Linked DNA regions of Homo sapiens: region 2 is linked to region 1. Evidence: fine-mapped expression QTL. Tissue or cell type: cerebellum. Region 1 holds a variant in brackets; the other region holds the start of a gene. All regions are shown on one strand. Distances are between the middles of the regions. Region 1 overlaps AVEN (apoptosis and caspase activation inhibitor). Region 2 holds the start of CHRM5 (cholinergic receptor muscarinic 5).

Evidence for each region. PIP is the estimated chance that this variant, and not a neighbour inherited with it, causes the effect. A credible set is the group of variants that fine-mapping cannot tell apart.
Region 2: it holds the start of CHRM5, and the variant in region 1 is the best candidate, but not a certain one, in a credible set for the expression of CHRM5 in cerebellum (GTEx, PIP 0.86).

Annotation. Positions count from the first base shown.
Region 1 is chr15:33,990,214-33,994,447 of GRCh38, reverse strand. All of the region lies in intron 2 of AVEN (apoptosis and caspase activation inhibitor), which reads left to right. All of the region lies in intron 1 of CHRM5 (cholinergic receptor muscarinic 5), which reads right to left. Among named protein-coding and RNA genes, the nearest start is that of CHRM5, 24 kb to the right of the region's middle. The variant C/T (reference allele first, on the strand shown) is at 2,339.
Region 2 is chr15:33,966,002-33,970,235 of GRCh38, reverse strand. CHRM5 (cholinergic receptor muscarinic 5) reads right to left here and starts at 1,739. Exons shown (of 3, transcript NM_012125.4): 1 at 1,086-1,739. All of the region lies in intron 2 of AVEN (apoptosis and caspase activation inhibitor), which reads left to right.

The sequences.
Region 1 (4,234 bases):
TATTACATTGTGATATGTAGTGAAATAATTATACAACTCACCATAATGTAGACTCAATGGGAGTCCTAAGCTTGTTTTCTTGCAACTGGATGGTCCCATCTGGGAATGATGGGAGACTGACAGATCATCAGGCCTTAGATTCTCATAAGGAGCGTGCAACCTGGATCCCTTGCATGTGCAGTTCACAATAGGGTTTGGCTCCTATGAGAATCGAATGCTGCTGCTGATCTGACAGGAGGTGGCGCTCAGGCACTAATGCAAGCAGTAGGGAGTGGCTGTAAATAGAGAAGAATCTGCTCACTTGCCCACCACTCACCTCCTGCTATGCAGCCCGGTTCCTAACAAGCCACAGACCGGTACTGATCCATGGTCTGGGGGTGGGGGACCCCCTGTTCTAGAGAAACTCCAGCACGTGTGTGCCCAAATGTTCACAGCTGTATGTTCAGAAGAGCCTCAGATGGAAGCAACGCAAATATTCATTAATAGTGGAATGAATACTTAAATAAGTGGATGAATCTTTTCAACATAGCATGAAGTAAAAGAAACATGCCCACAGAATTCGTTAGTATGATTCTATTATATAAAGTTCAAACACAGGAAAAAAAAACCCTATTTTTTAAGGATGTATATTTAAATACTAAAGTGACAATCAAGGAAATGATTATTCCAGATATCATGATTGCGGTCACCTCTAGTGGGGAGATGAGGTGTAATGATTGAGGAGGGCCCGGTAGCAGGTGTGGTGTTGGCAGTATTCTATTTCCTGGCCTGGATGATTGTTATTTATGTTGGTTTAATAATTATTCTATAAGCTCATATGTATTATCAATTTTTTATTTTACAGATCTCTTTATAAAAGGAATAAAACTCTTTAAAAGTGGATTTCTAATGGTAAAATTTCTGTTACCACCATAGAGGTGGGAACCATTTTTGGAGAGGCAGCCCTTTCCAGCCTGCCTCCTTCCACTTGTGCCACACGGGCATTGCCTGCTCTGTTTGTTTCTGACCACTGACAGTGACACTCTCATTTTTATTAGTGGTGGATATGGGAAAGGGGACGGTTGTTCAAAGTCATACTTTTTCTGGTAAGATTGTGAGTCTTTAGGTGTCTTTGTAGAACTCTTTCTGTTAGTCTCTGAAAGAGATAATCATGCCTTTGGCTTTTCTTTTTGAACAGTATTCTTGGCAGTTCTAAGTTACGTTTCAAGAGCTTTGAAAATGGCACCCCACTCTTACCTTCAAACGTAAAAAGTAAGATCTATGAGAAATTTCTTCTGCCCTTCATTTTTTTTCCCCAAAAGTCAAATCATTGAATTCATGCAATATGCATTGTCTGTTCCTTTCAAGATGTCACAGATAGCCAGAGTTAGAAAAATGTTTAACAGTGTGAGCAGAATGCACTGGATCAATATTGAAGAAAACGTGGGGAAAATATTATGTGCAAGTCTGTAAACACTATTTTTAGAGATACAAATAAAAACGAAATAACCAGACTGCAGTTTGGTCAGTATAGTTGTTGTCTGTGCATATTTTTGCTTAAAACTATTATATATTTTCTTCAATTTAATTTTATGAAAAGCTATTTTGGGTAGGAAATTTTAATTGTAATGACATTGGAATTTCTTCCCTCCTCTGTTCCTTGTGCCAACAATTAGACTGAAGGGAAAAGAAAGGATATTACTCTAGCAGCCTGTACTTTTAAATTAAACCTCGAACCTTTTCTTTCCATGAGGCAACAAGACAGTTTTATTTGTCCTCATTGATTCAGCTCATTTTTTTCCCTCTTCTTGTATGGTATATAGTTTGTGCCAATATAGTCTCATATTACAAAGGCAATATAGTAGAAGAAGATTCTTCCCTTTGATATTTAAAACATCTGAAATAACACAAACAGAACTATAAATTAAAAAATTTGTTCTGGCTGACAGGGCTAAAAAAATTTTCAATTGGATAACCAAAAAAATAAAAACAAGGAAAACTCCGATAACAAAAAAACTTTTCCTTGTAGCTGAATATTGAATATTGGGCCTAATTTGATTTTCTTTTTTCTTTTTTTTTGAGACGGAGTCCTGATCTGTCGCGCAGGCTGGAGTGCAGTGGCGCAATCTCGGCTCACTGCAAGCTCCGCCCCCCGGGCTGACGCCATTCTCCTCCCTCAGCCTCCCGAGTAGCTGGGACTACAGGTGCCCGCCACCACGCCCAGCTAACTGTTTTGTATTTTTTTAGTAGAGACGGGGTTTCACCTTGTTAGCCAGGATGGTCTCAAATCTTCTGACTTCGTGATCCCCCTGCCTTGGCCTCCCAGAGTGCTGGGATTACAGGCGTGAACCATCGCGCC[C/T]GGCCTGATTTTCTTTTTAAAAACCTTCAAAAGATAAGAGCAGAATTTGTGTGCTAAACTGCTAGTCTCCAGCGCCATTTTGTGTTTTCTGTTGTTTTGAAGCAATTCTTTGTTTTTGCTGGTCCAGCTGCATCATTTTCATCATCCTGAACTATCATTTTCCTGCCCTGAAGTTGTGCATTTCCTTTAGCAGATCCAGCCTAGGCAGCTTTATTTCCCTTTCTTTTTCCTTTAAATCTATGACCTTTTGATTCTCATTTGTTTAGAGATTCTTGGTGATTTTGCATGAGTTTTTTTCAGTGTTTCTTTTTCTACCTTTCTGTCTAGTAATTTCCACATCTCTTCCTTGTTTCTTAGTCATAGGTTACAATTGCTGGCTGCTTCTGCTTTATTTAGTGTTTCTTTAGCTTTTTTCTTACATAGAATTAATCTCTCTTTTGCTCTACTGATAAAGTGTATCCATTTTATTTCCCCATGATTTGAGAAAAGGATATGTGGGTGCTTTCTACAGGTCACATTATCTAAGTCATCCCAAAATTTCAGCAAACATTCAATCTAGACATTTCATTTGAGCATCCTCAGCACTTCTGTTTTTTTTTTTTTAAAGTTTATTTTTGTGGGTCCGTAGTAGATATATATATTTACTGGGTATATGAGATATTTTGGTACAGGTATGCCATGCATAATAATCACATCATGGAAAATTGGGTATCCATCCTCTCAAGCATTTATCTTTTGCAGCACTTCCATTTTTCTTCTTGCTCTTGCTTAGCTCTGAATTTAGTTTATACTTTGTTTTGCTTCATTCTTGTTTTGCAAAATAATCCTCCTTGAAAAGTGTTAGAAGGTCTGTATTTTTATACCAGGGTTCAGGGCCAGGGTCTCTATAAACTTTTTATTGGATTTAATACCGTCAAACACTGCACGTGTTGATTGCTTAAATGCTTTGTGTAATGTTTTTCTCATTTGAATATTTAGTGCTTGTCCTTTATCTTCTAATCTTTAAAAGATTAGACATAAAATAATTATGTCATCAGGAGTTGCATCCATTGGGAAGCCTTTCATATGAATGGATCTGGTTTTACATCATTTTTTTCTACTCATCAGTTGCCAGAGGGACATTTTGTACTAATCAGAGGGAGGTTTGTTTGGAAAAATCTTCTGATTTTAGTTTTATCTGTATTTTCATTAGTTCTGCCTTTGATTTGTTCAGTGCTTCTATTATATTAAAATCTGTTGTTAGGTAATTTAACCTGTTGAATTTTGTTATTTCCAGAGGTATCCAGCTTTCATCCAATTTAGTCTGTTCCTTTTAAAAATTCGTCTTACGGCAAATTAAAGTCATCAAAATGATACTTGATTTGATGGTGGTAGGTTTCGGTCCCCAGAGCAGCCATTGTTTTCACTATCACCATTTTTGGCTGCTGTGGTTATCTTTCCGGTCCCAGGCCCCCAGAGCCGAGCCATAGGATCGCTAGCAGAGACTGTACTTTCAAGTTCACATGAAGGACTGTTTATTTTTAAATGTTTATTATTAGATAATTTAAGCTAGTTATACTGGACATGGCTTAATGAGAGAACGTTAGTGAATCTTTTCTGAGTTTAAGTTGTATTCCAGATACTCTTCTGGTTATCAAATGACTTATATTCCAGTTACTCTTCAGTTAGACAACTGGCTGCATCATCAAATCATCTGGGTACTACATTCTTTTCTTTTCTTTTTTTTTTCAGACAGGGTCTCACTCTGTCGCCCATGCTGGAGGGCAGTGGCGTGATCTCGGCTCACTGCAGCCTCTGCCTCCCAGGTTCTAGCGATTCTCCTGCCTTAGCCTCCTGAGTAGCTGGGACTATAGGCACGCACCTCAACGCCTGGCTAAGTTTTTTTTGTTTTGTTTT
Region 2 (4,234 bases), 24 kb after region 1:
GGAAAGAATTCAGTGAAATGGAAGAGAATTTCTAATTTGACTACTTTTAGACAAGTATTGAATACTTACTTCTGATAACTTTATGTATATTACCACAAGATCTCCGTAGTTAGGTGTGATATGCTCTTGTTTCCCTGTCTCCTCTCTTCTAAGATAATATAAATATTATTTGTTGTAGGACTTCTTTATGATAAGGTGCTTTGGACCTAAGTTTTCCAATGAAACTCATGAAAACCAATGTGGTTGGGATTTCTGCTAAATGATAACGTTTTGTTGTTTTTACATAAGATTGTCACTCTAGAAGTCTCATTATGCAGTGATTTCTAGGGAATTTCTTAAAGGCACTGTATCTTTTAAAATCCTTTGATGGCTTCACTAGTGCTTTGCATTTTACAGTTTGGACCACTGACCTGAGTCAAAGCTTTTGAGGTTTTAAGGTACCAGACATCTTTCATCTTTTTATCCTCTTGTTGAATCAGAAAAATGTCTTCATTTAGTCTGTTATAAAAATGTCTAGTATCTTTAGGATAAATTAGCCCTATCCTACAAGAGTGTTATACCTCGATTTAGTAGAGATTATTTTTCTTTAGTATGAATGAAATGACATCACAGCTTTTTTTTCTTAGTAACAATAGAAATCAGTCATTGAGCTTTTGTTCCTTTATATGAATAAAAATATTTAAAATGCTTATTAATTTTTCTTTGTTTTATCAAGTACTCTGGGAAACTAAGTTCATTTGAATATTGTTGGTAAACATTATCTGTGAATGGCTCTTATGCACCATTCAGGGCTCTCTTCATGCATTTTTTTCAAGCTATTAAATAAAACAAAATTGGGATAAAAATAAAGACAAAGATGAGACAAATTCAATGAAAAATGAATGGGAGTTTTGGATGCTTTATTATCTAGTTCTGAGTGACTTGTTTATGCAGCATAAGTAAAAACAAGCGTTTACCTCAGCTTAAATCTGCAAAAGCTTAAGGAAGGGTTGCAAGAAATTCAAATCCACTATCTCATTCACAGCACGAGCAGATTTAATTTCAGTAGACAAGATATAAATTAAGGTTATAAAATTAAATCTTACCTGGCAGTGGTTTGTTTGAAGCTCAGTAATTTGAACTCTGGCTGGAAATAGTAAGCTTCGAGACCCAAAATGCCTTCTCTACTTTCCTTTCATGTTTTATTTTGCCAGTGTTTTATTTCTTGCAGTGTCTTTATATCTGTATTCCTGATAATCCTGTAGCATTAGTTAGGATAGTATGCGGTAGATGAAGACTCCATTTGGATAGGATTATAGAACCAGAAGGGTGAGTTTTGCCTTTATCTGGTAACAGCAGTTGATCTGATCACAAACAATCTGAGTGTTGAGAACTTATTAAAGATTCATTGAATGCTTCAGCAATGAGAAATCCTGGTTGTTCCTATATGCATTTGACCCCCTGGAAAAGTTCTGCTTGTTCGTATTTCAGAATTACACACGCTTCCAAATCAAGCTGCTTTAAAAAACATTATCTGGACTAGAAGCATGGATGTTCTTGCACTCTTGCTTTCCTTTCTCCATACGAACTTTTCAGTCCATCAGCTTCCTTTCTGTAGAAGATGAAGGCATTTCTTCTGTCCTCCTCATGCTTTTGTAACCCATGCTTCTGGTACCCTGTTTTTTGAATAGTGAGGTAAAAATCCAGAAGGAAGTACGGCTTTATCATGTCTCTGGACGGTGAGCGTACTTGGCATGAATGAAGAGCTGATAGGAGCTATTCAAACCAGACAGCAAACTGATGGGATGACGCTGCCATACATAAAAAACTCATTAATTACTTCCCCTGCTGGACAGCAGTATATCCTGAAAGGAAGAAAGAAAGGAGCAGATGATGATATTCGTTTTGATAGGTGTTCTCTGTTTGAACAGCTTGTCATTGAGAAGAGAATCCAGGAAAAGCTGCAGCTTCAGAGTGTGATCAGGTAGAATGGGCAAGAGTTATTTGACAGACAGTTAAGTGACGTATTTTGGGAGGAAAAAGAGGGCTTAGCATGGAGGTAGCTGGAATAAGGTTCCAAAATGCTTTTGAAAATGTTCATTTTTTCCTGTTAGTCTTTTTGGCTAGAAGCTTTTTTTTTTTTTTTTTTTTTTTTTTAAGCTTTGCTAGGCATTATTCACAGACATGTTGCTGAGTTATTTTCTCATATGGTTTTCCCTAAAGATGGAAAATAATTTTTAAAAGTCTTTGAGATAGAAAGAGTATACTGTGAGTTTTAAATATTTGTAGCAGAGAAAAGGCTGCCTTTTTTTTTTTTCCTAAATGTATGCCTGTTTTTATACATCTTTTGGGCATATGCGTTTTGTTGCTTTGGAGTAAAGCATTATAAGTCCTCATTTGATACAAACTTTTAACAGGGTCTTCATTAAAGCTTTTCCTTAAGTTAGATGAAATCCATATTAGCTGTATAAAAGAATAGATTTTTAAATGTCAATTTCATAATTTTTGCACTTCAGTTTTTAAATTTAAAATTCAAATTTTTAAAACTGCACTTCAGTTTAAAATTTAAATTTTAAATTTAAACGTTTTTTCCCTGCCTGAGTTCTTTATGAGTGTATCTAGACAATATAATGTTTTTAAATTTTAAAAAATTATTATGGAACATTTCAAACTTACACAAAACTCTGAAAAATAATACAAAAATAATACATGAACCTCCAGAAACTCATTACCAAGATTCAACAATTGTCAGATTCAATTCTTTGCTAAAATATTTTAAAGCAAATCTCATTTCACCTATTTGTACTTTAGTATGTATATTTTTAAAGTATGGACACTTTTTCACATGACCCTGTGCCATTATCACACCTAACACATTGGCTATAATCCTCTGGAGTCATATAATATCCAGTTCATTTTAAATTCCTTGTGTCTCAGAAACTATGTCTTTATGTAGGTTTTTTCTGAGTGAGAATCCAGACAAAGTATACACTTTAATTGTTAGCCAATAGAATTTTAAACACTGACAGATGAACATGTATGAGAAAGAAGTGAATTTTAGTTTTATAGTGGTCTTTGACACACATTTGTAATAGGAATATTTATGCAAGAGAACATATCTTTAGAATATTTTCTTGAACTTTTCCCACTTAACATTGCATGATACTGAAAAGGATTGTAATTTCATATGGTAATGATTGGTCATTATATACTGGTCACTTCTATAATAAATACCCCAAGTTTTAAGCCACTGATTATTAAGCCATTTCAATGATTGAATGTGACTTAGAGTTCAGTGGAGATCCAAAATGAGAGAAGTAAAAATCTATCAAATGGGGCCATTGTGTTTATGAGGATCGATGACTATAATATTATATATGTTTTTCATTAATGTCAAGGTTTCTTCCCAATGGATTTTAATTTTTCTATGAAGTTTGAACTCCTAGCTCCTTTCTGGTAAAGCATAACATTTGGCTGTCCACTTAACTTTTCCAAGAATACAATAGCATGAGGTCCTGAAAATAACTTGTGTGCCACACCCTCACCTGTCGAAATTCATTCTCATTCAGGTTCTCTGTCTCTTCTCACTCTTATCTCATCTTTCAAATTGGCTGGATGAAAGAGAATGGGGGTGGTGAATATGGGGAGCCATTAAAGGGGTGTAGATGGAAATTATAATTTTCTGTTTCCATCTAAGCTCAAAGCCACTGCTGAGGACCGTGCTCCCATTTTTTATGGAGGGCAATAGAATACTTCTCTCCCAAGGTGCTCACTCTTGAGTATCTCTTGTCATACGTCATGTTATGGCATGAACATTTGGGAGCTTTGTGTTACACTTTATGTTCTCAAATTATACCTTGTCCTTTAAATCTTGCTGAATAAGGACTATATGTGCCAATCACTTTTTGAAAGCTTAGTAAATAGTTACTGATTATCACCATTTAATACAGATAAGCTGAATGGGAAAAGGTGAGCAAAAATGCTTCCATTCTCTTTCCAAGTTGTCTCTGAAATTTTTCTCAGTCATTTATAATACAATGTCAACATAGGAGAACACTTTGCAAATATGCAGGTTCTGCTGGAGAACTTTGTAGGGTGGGTGAAAAAGTGGTTATAGAGGGAACTGGAATAATAGATTATGAGTGTATTTTGGGTGCAAATATTTCATATCATTATCTCTCAGTACTTTAGCTATAAACTGAATTAATGGAAAAACATTGACTTAAGTACTGGCCTGTACAGTTCCAAATTATAC